3 linked regions of the Homo sapiens genome follow. The protein of the gene in region 2 interacts with the protein of the main gene of each other region in a biochemical or structural test. Each region holds a gene or a part of one and is shown on either strand. Other genes may lie near its edges. The genes, in order: UBASH3A, RNF41 and MYO1C.

Evidence for each region.
Region 1: the proteins of RNF41 (region 2) and UBASH3A form a complex in vitro, tested with the Homo sapiens proteins (one study listed by BioGRID).
Region 3: the proteins of RNF41 (region 2) and MYO1C form a complex in vitro, tested with the Homo sapiens proteins (one study listed by BioGRID).

What each region holds. Positions count from the first base shown.
Region 1 is NC_000021.9:42,413,890-42,417,541, forward strand, and holds part of UBASH3A (ubiquitin-associated and SH3 domain-containing protein A), read left to right. Parts: exon of another isoform or gene 1-2,419; intron 2,420-2,552; coding exon 2,553-2,722; intron 2,723-3,652. UniProt on the Homo sapiens protein: Interferes with CBL-mediated down-regulation and degradation of receptor-type tyrosine kinases. Promotes accumulation of activated target receptors, such as T-cell receptors, EGFR and PDGFRB, on the cell surface.
Region 2 is NC_000012.12:56,215,405-56,219,056, forward strand, and holds part of RNF41 (E3 ubiquitin-protein ligase NRDP1), read right to left. Parts: intron 1,210-3,652; 5' UTR 1,025-1,209; intron 1-1,024. UniProt on the Homo sapiens protein: Acts as E3 ubiquitin-protein ligase and regulates the degradation of target proteins. Polyubiquitinates MYD88. Negatively regulates MYD88-dependent production of pro-inflammatory cytokines.
Region 3 is NC_000017.11:1,466,072-1,468,723, reverse strand, and holds part of MYO1C (unconventional myosin-Ic), read left to right. Parts: intron 1-227; coding exon 228-321; intron 322-415; coding exon 416-471; intron 472-600; coding exon 601-736; intron 737-813; coding exon 814-884; intron 885-1,146; coding exon 1,147-1,244; intron 1,245-1,382; coding exon 1,383-1,482; intron 1,483-2,652.

The sequences.
Region 1 (3,652 bases), on a different chromosome or scaffold from region 2:
GGAGACCAAGGCTACCATTGGGGTTTAGTGGAAAGGATTGTGGACTTGACGTCAGAAGATGTGATTTTTTTCTGTGTCCCTGATGAGTGGCATGACCTTAATCAAGTCATGTCCACTCTCTCTGTCTCTTTTTCTTTCTCTACAAAACAATGAGGGCTCTCACTCTTCAAGAACAATGTTGCCTGAGTCTGTGGCCCATCCTGCCATAGTTCCCGGGACACAGAAGGCACTCAGTATTGCTGAGATTTGCCGACTCTAAAATCTGACGAGGCCGCAGTGCCTTGGTGGGAGGGCTCCCCACTTTCTCTCTCTGGGAGCGTGTCTGTCTGTGCTCAGACATGTATGAAGCACAGATCCTGGCCTGTAAATCCATCCCTGAATCCTGGGCTTCCACTTGGATGGCAGCTTGTGAGTCTGGAGATCGAATCTGCTGAATAATTAGAAAGTCGCCCCCGGTCTTTGTGGATTAGTATCCTTTATCAAATGATGGCTCTTTCACACCCAGGCCCTCCCCCAGTGAACCTCATTGGCAGCATCTTAAAAACAGGAAGACTGAGGCTGCAAAGGGTGAAGGGCCTGCCCAAGGTCCTGTGGTGTGTAGAGCGGTGTCCCCTAAAAATGTTTGTCCACCAGGAACTTGGGAATGTGACCTCACTTGGGAATAGGGCCTGTGCAGATGCGATTGGTTGGGAGGAGGTCACACTGCATTAGGGTGGGTTCCCGTAAGGGTAGAGGCCGCACAGAGACACAGAGAAGCCATGTGCCGACTGAGGCAGAGACTGGAGTGATGTAGCCACAAGCCAAGGGACGCCTGGGGCCACCGGAAACTGGAAGAAGCCAGGAAGGACCCTTCCCAGGAGCTTTCGGGGAGAGCACAGCCCTGCCAACACCTTGATTTTGAACCTCTAGTCTCCAGAAATGGGAGGCAATACATTTCTGTTGTTTGAAACCAATCTAGTCCCCTAACCAGGCTGGCGGAGCAGGGACCTGAACCCACCTCTGTCCTGCTCCATGCTGCCTGGGTTCATGCTGGGCAGCCCCACTTCCTGTGGGAGCCAGCGTTGACCTCACATCTACGCCCCGACCCTAAGCAGGCTGTGTCCTGCCCTTCCATGGCCCATGCTCTCAGCCTGACACCGAGGGGGTGGAGGGGACTCTCTCAGTGATGAGTGACCAGTCACTGCTCTGAAGTGGCCGAGGTCCCTCTTGGGGCAAATGCATGAGGCCCCCTTGCCCGCGTTGGTCCTCCCCAGTGAAACGTGCCCATAGGCACAGGTCCGCAGAGAGAAGGAAACGCAAGGACCCGTTCAGAAGTCGGTGTGACTCACTCTGACGTCAGCAACCTGCAGTGGGTCTTTCCCAGGCCACACTCACTCGCATGGCAAGGCGGTCCTCCCCGACTGCTAAAAACAAAAGTCAGGAAAGGAATTTCCCCACCACCTACACACTCATGCTGCTCCCCACCACCTACACACTCATGCTGCTCTGGGCTGTGCAGCCTCAGTGCCCCAGCTTTCCTAGAGACCGTGGGAGCTTCCCATTTGCCTCTAAAGGCTCACCTCTCACGTGGGAGACAGCAGTGAGCCCCAACTTCGGGGCTCCAGGGAAAGGCTTGCATCAACCTTGACCTTTTTTAGGGGGTGAGCAGATCCTGTTTGTAAGTGCCCTGCCGTGGAGTGGGGGCAGGGTACGTCTGTGCACCGACACGGCGTCTCTAGCAGGAAACTTTAGGTTAGGAGGCTGATTTCCCACTGCAGCCTTGGCGAGCAGGCGCTGCCGTCCTCCAGCAGATGCTGCTGAAGCAGAAATTGGGCAGGCCCAGAGGCTCAGTCAAGGTCACCCTGCAAAAGGGGGCAAAGTGCAGCCTAAAACTAGGTCTATCTGACACCAAAGTTTGTGTTGTTCCCGTCAAGACACAGACCGCCTCCCTAGGACATAAAATACTTTGTGGCTCAACTGAAATCAGATCCTGGCTGCTTTGGTGATGCCAGCTGCTCTGCTCAGACTGACCTGAGAGCCCCTGGCAGGACCAGGGAGGGCTAGGGCCACAGGGGCAGAGGACACCCAAAAAGACCTGAGGCTCAACCACTCCCAGGACTTCCTGCTTCACCAAAACAAGGTGAACCTTAAAGACACTGTGTGTTTTATAGTTTTGTTGCCTAAAGAGTTTTCTTCTTGAAACTCTACGATTAAACAAAAAGCCGTTGAACTGGAGCTCGGGCCTGCAAGTCCAGGCCACTGGGTAACGTGCACACCCCGGGGAATGGAGGAGCCGTTTACTCTGTGCATCTGAATCGTGCATTCGGGCAGCTAGCCTGCAAACCGATAGGCCCCCGAGACCCTGAACCCACATCTCCATATCGTCCTCTTTCCTACTTCCTGGAAAAATCTACAGGGATCCAGCCATCTCCTTTATGATGTGAGTTCTGAGCGGGCCAAATGAGCTCTGAGTTCTGAGAGCCCTTGCCTTGTGGAGGAAGCATGGAGGTCGGAGGAAGGAGACATTTAGGTAACGGTGTCCTGGCACCCTCTGTGTTTCCCTGATTTCACAGACTGCTCCGTGAAGCCTTGCACCAAACAGCTGCATCTGACCTTGGCCCACAAGTTCTACCCCCACCACCAGAGGACGCTGGAGCAGCTGGCCAGAGCCATCCCCCTGGGCCACAGCTGCCAGTGGACCGCAGCACTCTACTCCCGAGACATGCGCTTTGTGCACTACCAGGTGAGAGAGCTGAGCAGGGGCTCATAAGAAGCAGATGAATGGGCTGGGCTCGGTGGCTCACGCCTGTAATCCCAGCACTTTGGGAGGCCGAGGCGGCGGATCATGAGGTCAGGAGATGGAGACCATCCTGGCTAACATGGTGAAACCTCGTCTCTACTAAAAATACAAAAAATTAGCCAGGCACGGCGGCGGGCACCTGTAGTCCCAGCTACTCAGGAGGCTGAGGCAGGAGAATGGAGTGAACCCGGGAGGCGGAGCTTGCAGCGAGTGGAGGTAGCATCACTGCACTCCAGCCTGGGCTACAGAGCGAGACGTCTCAAAAAAAGAAGCAGATGAGTGAACGGCCACTCACCTGACAGCATGTACCCCCTGGAGCCCTCCAAGGGAGATATGTTAGTAGCAAGGAAAATTTCTATTGCTTCTCTAAAGCCATTCTCTTTCTTGTGCAATTTACAACCAGCATTCTTTTATATGTGAGTTAGAGATGCACAGACAACAAAATAGAAGCATTTCCAATATTAGAAAAGGAAGCTGGGTGTGGTGGCTCACACCTATAATCCCAGCACTTTGGGAGGCTGAGGCAGGTGGATCACTTCAGGTCAGGTGTTCGAGACCAGCCTGGGCAACAGGGCAAAACGCTGTCTCTACTAAAAATACAGAAAATTAGCCGGGCGTGATGGCACGAACCTGTAATCCCAGCTACTCGGGAGGCTGAGGCAGAAGAATCACTTGAACCTGGGAGGTGGAGGTTGCAGTGAGCAGAGATCGTACCGTTGCACTCCAGCCTGGGCAACAGAGCGAGACTGGCAAAAAAAAAAAAAAAAAAAAAAAAGACAGAAAGGAAAGGACTATTGTAAAGATCTATGAATACATGTTTTGCTTATTAATTCTTTTTTATTTATTTATTTTTTAAATGTAGGGGCCATGCTA
Region 2 (3,652 bases):
GGTGGTGGTGATGGGGATAAAGAAGAGAAGAGAGGGCCGGGCATGGTGGCTCATGCCTGTAATCCCAGCACTTTGGGAGGCTGAGGCAGACGGATCATGAGGTCAAGAGATCAACACCATCCTGGCCAACATGGCGAAACCCCGTCTCTACTAAAAATACAAAAATTAGCCAGGCGTGGTGGTGCGCACCTGTAGTCCCAGCTACTCGGGAGGCTGAGGCAGGAGAATCGCTTGAACCCAGGAGGCGGAGGTTGCAGTGAGCCGAGATTGCACCACTGTATTCTAGCCCAGTGACAGAGCACGACTCTGTCTCAAAAAAAAAAAAAAAAAAAAAGAGAGGTCCAAAAGAGCAAGGACTCAAACAGCGGCAATGGCGCCATGCCCCTTCTTTGGGCTCCCAAAGGTCAAACCCAAAGAAGAGGTCAGTAAACAACTGGCTGGGCGCAGTGGCTCACGCCTGTAATCCTAGCACTTTGGGAGGCCGAGGTGGGTGGATCACCTGAGGTCAGGAGTTCAAGACCAGCCTGGCCAACATGGTGAAACCCCATCTCTACTAAAAATACAAAAATTAGCTGGGCATGGTGGTGGGCACCTGTAATCCTAGCTACTTGGGAGGGTGAGGCAGGAGAACTGCTTGAACCCAGGAGGTGAAGGTTGCAGTGAGCTGAGATCATGCCACTGCACTCCAGCCTAGGCGACAGAGCAAGACTCTGTCTCAAAAAAAAAAAAGAAGAAACACATAATCCTTGTCCTCAAACTAAGGTGTAGGCTTGAGCCCAATGAGTACATAGGAAAAAAAACACATAAAAACACATAAACGTATTAAGCAAATTATTAACAAGTAAAAGTCAATAATTTATGTAAGTTGTAAATATACAAAAAAGAACAAATGGTACAGATTAATCACAGAAAGCTTTCTGCAGAAAGAAGTTTTAAGAACTGGACTTTCAAGGGCAGAAGGAATCCCGAGCGACAGAGAAGAGGGTTGAGGCCTGGAATGGGATTCTGAATCAAAGCTCTTTACCTTCCAAGTGTTGGGGGGCAGGTTCCCTGTTCACAAGGCTCCAACCCCCTGATGCCTCCACTCAGTGCCACTGAAGAGATTCTCCCAGTAACCCATCTTGTTGGCTATTCTCCGACTGAGTATTCCTTCCCAGTGACAAGCTCCATCGCCCAGGGGATGAATGTGATGTCACAATCAGGAGTACTCTAGTAATAGGAACAAGGAAGAGAAAGGAGAGTCAGGAGAACTACCTCCACTTGGCAAGGAGACTGGACAGATGGATCTGGCAGTTGGTTGGGGAGGATGAGACAACTCCATTAAGCACTACAGTTTTCAGTGCTAGGCAAATAAGACTACCTTCTAAGGAGGGAGCTCACCAGCTAAGGAAGCACACACACGGGGTCCAGTAGATTTGAACATAGCTGGGAGGGGGAAAGAAAAGGACAAGAGAGGCCGGGCGTGGTGGCTCACGCCTGTAATCCCAGCTCTTAGGGAGGCCAAGGCGGGTGGATCACGAGGTCAGGAGATCAAGACCGTCCTGGCTAACACGGTGAAACCCCGTCTCTACTAAAAATACAAAAAATTAGCTGGGCGAGGTGGCAGGCGCCTGTAGTCCCAGCTACTCGGGAGGCTGAGGCAGGAGAATGGCGTGAACCTAGGAGCTGCAGCTTGCAGTGAGCCGAGACCGCGCCACCGCACTCCAGCCTGGGCGACACAGCAAGACTCCGTCTTAAAAAAAAAAAAAAAAAAGACAAGAGGAAAAGTAGAGGAGTTGTTGGAGATTTAAGATTCTTTTATTCAGTGCACATAACTACCAGTAATAATGATTCCAAATCTGTGACTACAAAATGCATAGATCCAGGTTGCGATGGCTCACGCCTGTGATCCCAGCACTTTGGGAGGCCGAGGCGGGTGGATCACCTGAGGTCAGGAGTCGGAGATGAGCCTGGCCAACATGGCGAAACCCCATCTCTACTAAAAATATAAAAATTAGCCGGGTATGGTGGCAGATGCCTGTAATCCCAGCTACTCAGGAGGCTGAGGCAGGGAGAATTGCTTGAACCCAGGAGGCGGAGGTTGCAGTGAGCCAAGATCGCGCCACTGCACTCCAGCCTAGGCGACAGAGCAAGACTCTGACTCAAAAAAAAAGCAAAATGCATAGATCCATAATACATTATGTGTACAGGATGATGCTTTAATGCAGAGGTCCCCAAATCCCCAGATGGACCAGTACCAGACTGTGGCCTATCAGGAACCGGGTCGTACAGCAGGAGGTGAGCAGGAAACAAGCGAGCATTAAGGCCTGTGCTCCATGTCCTGTCAGATCAGCAGCGGCATTTGATTCTCATTGGAGCATGAACCCTATTGTGAACTGCCCATGCGAGGGATCTAGGTTGCCCACTCCCTATGAGAATCTAATGCCTGATGATCTGAGGTGGTAGAGTTCCATCACAAAACCATCCCCTCGCCCACCATCTGTGGAAAAACTATCTTCCACAAAAAGGCTGGGGATGCTGCTTTAATGTTTCCAAAGTGCTTTCACATAAATTATTATTATTATTTCGAGATAGAGTCTCGCTCTGTCACCTAGGCTAGAGTGCAATGGCGCGATCTTGGCTCACTGAAGCCTTGGCCTCCCGAGTTCAAGTGATTCTCCTACCTCAGCCTCCAGAGTAGCTAGGATTACAGGCACCCACCACCATGCCCGGCTAATTTTTGTATTTTTAGTAGAGACGGGGTTTCACCATGTTGGCCAGGCTGGTCTCGAACTCCTGACCTCAGGTGATCCACCCGCCTCAGCCTCCCAAAATGCTGGGATTACAAGTGTGAGCCACCGCGCCTGGCCCACATAAATTATTATTATTTTTTTGAGATAGGGTCTTGCTCTATTGCCCAGGCTGGAGTACAGTGGCATGATCATAGCTCACTACAGCCTCGCCTTCCCAGCAGGCTCCAGCAATCCTCCCACCTCAGTCTCCCAAATAGCTGGGACCACAGGCACACACCACCATGCCTGGCTAATTTTTGTATTTTTGGTAGAGATGGGGTTTTGCCATGTTGCCCAGGCTGGTCTTGAACTCCTGGGCAGGCTCCAGCAATCCTCCCACCTCAGCCTCCCGAAGTGCTGGGATTACAGGCACCAGCCACTGCGCCCACCCCCAAATCTACACATTTAAACAAGTCAAGTAACCCTGCTGTAGTTTTTCTGTTGCTTCAACTGTCAAGTAGGGAAAATGATACCTGCCTTATATATTAATATAAGGTATATATAATATATACATATTTATTATATATATATATGTTATTTTTTTTTTGAGACAAAGTGTTGCTCTGTCGCCAGGCTGGAGTACAGTGGCACGATCTTGGCTCACTGCAACCTCTGCCTCCCGGGTTCAAGCGATTCTCCTGCCTCATCCTCCCAAGTAGCTGGGACTACAGGCATGTGCCACCATGCTGAGCTAATTTTTGTATTTTTAGTAGAGACGGGGTTTCACCATGTTGGCCAGGATGGTCTCAATCTCCTGACCTTGTGATCCGCCCGCCTCGGCCTCCCAAAGTGCTGGGATTATAGGCGTGAGCCACCATGCTTGGCCTATTTTTCTTTTTTTTTTTGAGATGGAGTCTTCCTCTGTCGCTCAGGATGGAGTG
Region 3 (2,652 bases), on a different chromosome or scaffold from region 2:
CCCGCAGTGCCTTCATGACCCCGCTGGGGAGTGCTTGGTGGCGGCAGAGGGTCAGGAAGTGGAGGGTTGATGGGCGTGTGGGGGGCAGGGCTCAGCCTCCTGGTGCTGAGCCAGAGAGGGACCAGCAAGCGGGTGAGGGAGGCTGTCTCAGGTCCTAAGGCTGGCTCTGCCCCCCCAAGATGGTGCTCCCCACCATGACACTCTCCTCACCCCCCTTGTCTCCTCAGCTGCAGCAGAAGGCCGTGGCTAGTGAGATCTTCAAGGGCAAGAAGGATAATTACCCTCAGAGTGTACCCAGGCTCTTCATCAGCACTCGGCTTGGTGAGCCCCTGACTTTCCAGCACTCAGACCTTTCGTCACCATCCTGGTCCCCCATTGCCTCCACTGACTTCCCTCCCCGCCATCTGAGTTGCAGGTACAGATGAGATCAGCCCCCGAGTGCTGCAGGCCTTGGGCTCTGAGCCCATTCAGGTAAGAGCCTGCCTGCAGCCCTGAGTCCAGCAGCACGGTGCTACTGCCTGAGAGCTGAAGGCAGGTCAGGGCAGGGGCGGAGCCTTGGGAGCCTCTCCCCAGCCCCTTCAGCCTGGCCTCTGTCCCCAGTATGCGGTGCCTGTTGTGAAATACGACCGCAAGGGCTACAAGCCTCGCTCCCGGCAGCTGCTGCTCACGCCCAACGCCGTCGTCATCGTGGAGGACGCCAAAGTCAAGCAGAGGATTGATTACGCCAACCTGACCGGTCAGCCAGGGTCCAGGGCTGCAGGGGGAGGGCCCTGCTCTGACCCTCGACCTCTGACCTTTGCCCTCTCCCCTCAGGAATCTCTGTCAGCAGCCTGAGCGACAGTCTTTTTGTGCTTCATGTACAGCGTGCGGACAATAAGCAAAAGGTGCCTTTTCATGGATGGGGAGGAGTGGTGGGGGATGGGGGAGGTAGATGGGGAGGTGGGGTGGATGGGGGAATAGGGGGTGTGGGGGTGGATGGGGAGGTGGGAGGGTGGATGGGGGTAGATTGGGGGGTCAGGAGGTGGATGGGGAGGTGGGAGGGTGGATGGGGGTGGATTTGGGGGTCAGGAGGTGGATGGGGAGGTGGGGCGGGGGTTCCTCAAGTTCTGGGCAGGGCCTGACCCCTCCTCCTGCCTGGCCCCCCAGGGAGATGTGGTGCTGCAGAGTGACCACGTGATTGAGACGCTGACCAAGACAGCCCTCAGTGCCAACCGCGTGAACAGCATCAACATCAACCAGGGCAGGTGAGGCGCGGGCGGCCCCCGGGGACAGGGCGGGGGTGGCGAGGGGGCTGTGTGGGCACCCAGGGACAGGGTGGGGGTCCACCTTAGGGTTGGGGGTCTGCCTCCATGGAAAAACCCTCACCCACCCCGTTCCCCCAGCATCACGTTTGCAGGGGGCCCCGGCAGGGATGGCACCATTGACTTCACACCCGGCTCGGAGCTGCTCATCACCAAGGCCAAGAACGGGCACCTGGCTGTGGTGAGTGGGGCCTGCTTTCCCGCTTATGGCCTGGCTGTGATAGCCAAGCCTTCCTTGGCTGTGCTTGGCAGAGCCCAGGCACCTCACCATGGGCCTTCATCCAGAGGCCATCATACCACCTCTTCCATCCCTTGGCCCACCCATGAGGGCCAGAGAGAGCCCCTCAGTGCAGAAAGTTGTAAAGGTGGCAGCACGGTGGCTCATGCCTATAATCCCAGCACTTTGGGAGGCTGAGGCGGGTGGATCACCAGAGGCCAGGAGTTTGAAACCAGCCTGGCCAACATGGCAAAACCCATCTACTAAAAAAATGCAAAAGGCTGGGTGCAGTGGCTCACACCTTTAATCCCAGCACTTTGGGAGGCCGAGGTGTGTGGATCACCCGAGATCAGGAGTTCGAGACCAGCCTGGCCAACATCGTGAAACCCCATCTCTACTAATAACACAAAAATTAGCCGGGCGTGGTGGTGCACGCCTGTAATACCAGCTACTAGTGGGGGCTGAGGCGGGAGAATTGCTTGAACCCAGGAGGTGGAGATTGCAGTGAGCTGATATCATGCCACTGCACTCCAGGCCTGGGGAACAGAGTGAGATGTCATCTCAAAAAAAAAAAAAAAGGCCAGGCACAGTGGCTCACGCCTGTAATCCCAGCACTTTGGGAGGCGAAGGCAAGTGGATCACCTGAGGTTGGGAGTTCGAAACCAGCCTGACCAACTGGAGAAACCCCATCTCTACTAAAATACAAAATTAGCCGAGTGTGGTGGCGCATGCCTGTAATCCCAGCTACTTGGGAGGCTGAGGCAGGAGAATCGCTTAAACCCGGGAGGTGGAGGTTGCGGTGAGCCGAGATTGCGCCATTACACTCTACCCTGGGCAACAAGAGCAAAATTCCATCTCAGAATTTGTATACAAAAAAGTTAGCCTGGTGTGGTGGCGTATGCCTGTAGTCCCAGTTGCTCAGAAGCCTGAGATGAGAGGATTGCTTGAGCCCAGGAGGTTGAGGCTGCAATGAGACCCAAGATCTCACCACTGCACTCCAGCCTGGGTGACAAAATGAGACCCTGTCTCAAAAAAAAAAAAAAAAAAAAAAAGGCAGCACGGCAATGCAGGGAAGATACATAGGCTGATTGGGGGTGCCAGGAGGGAGGACAGGCTCACAGGCTCACGCTGGCC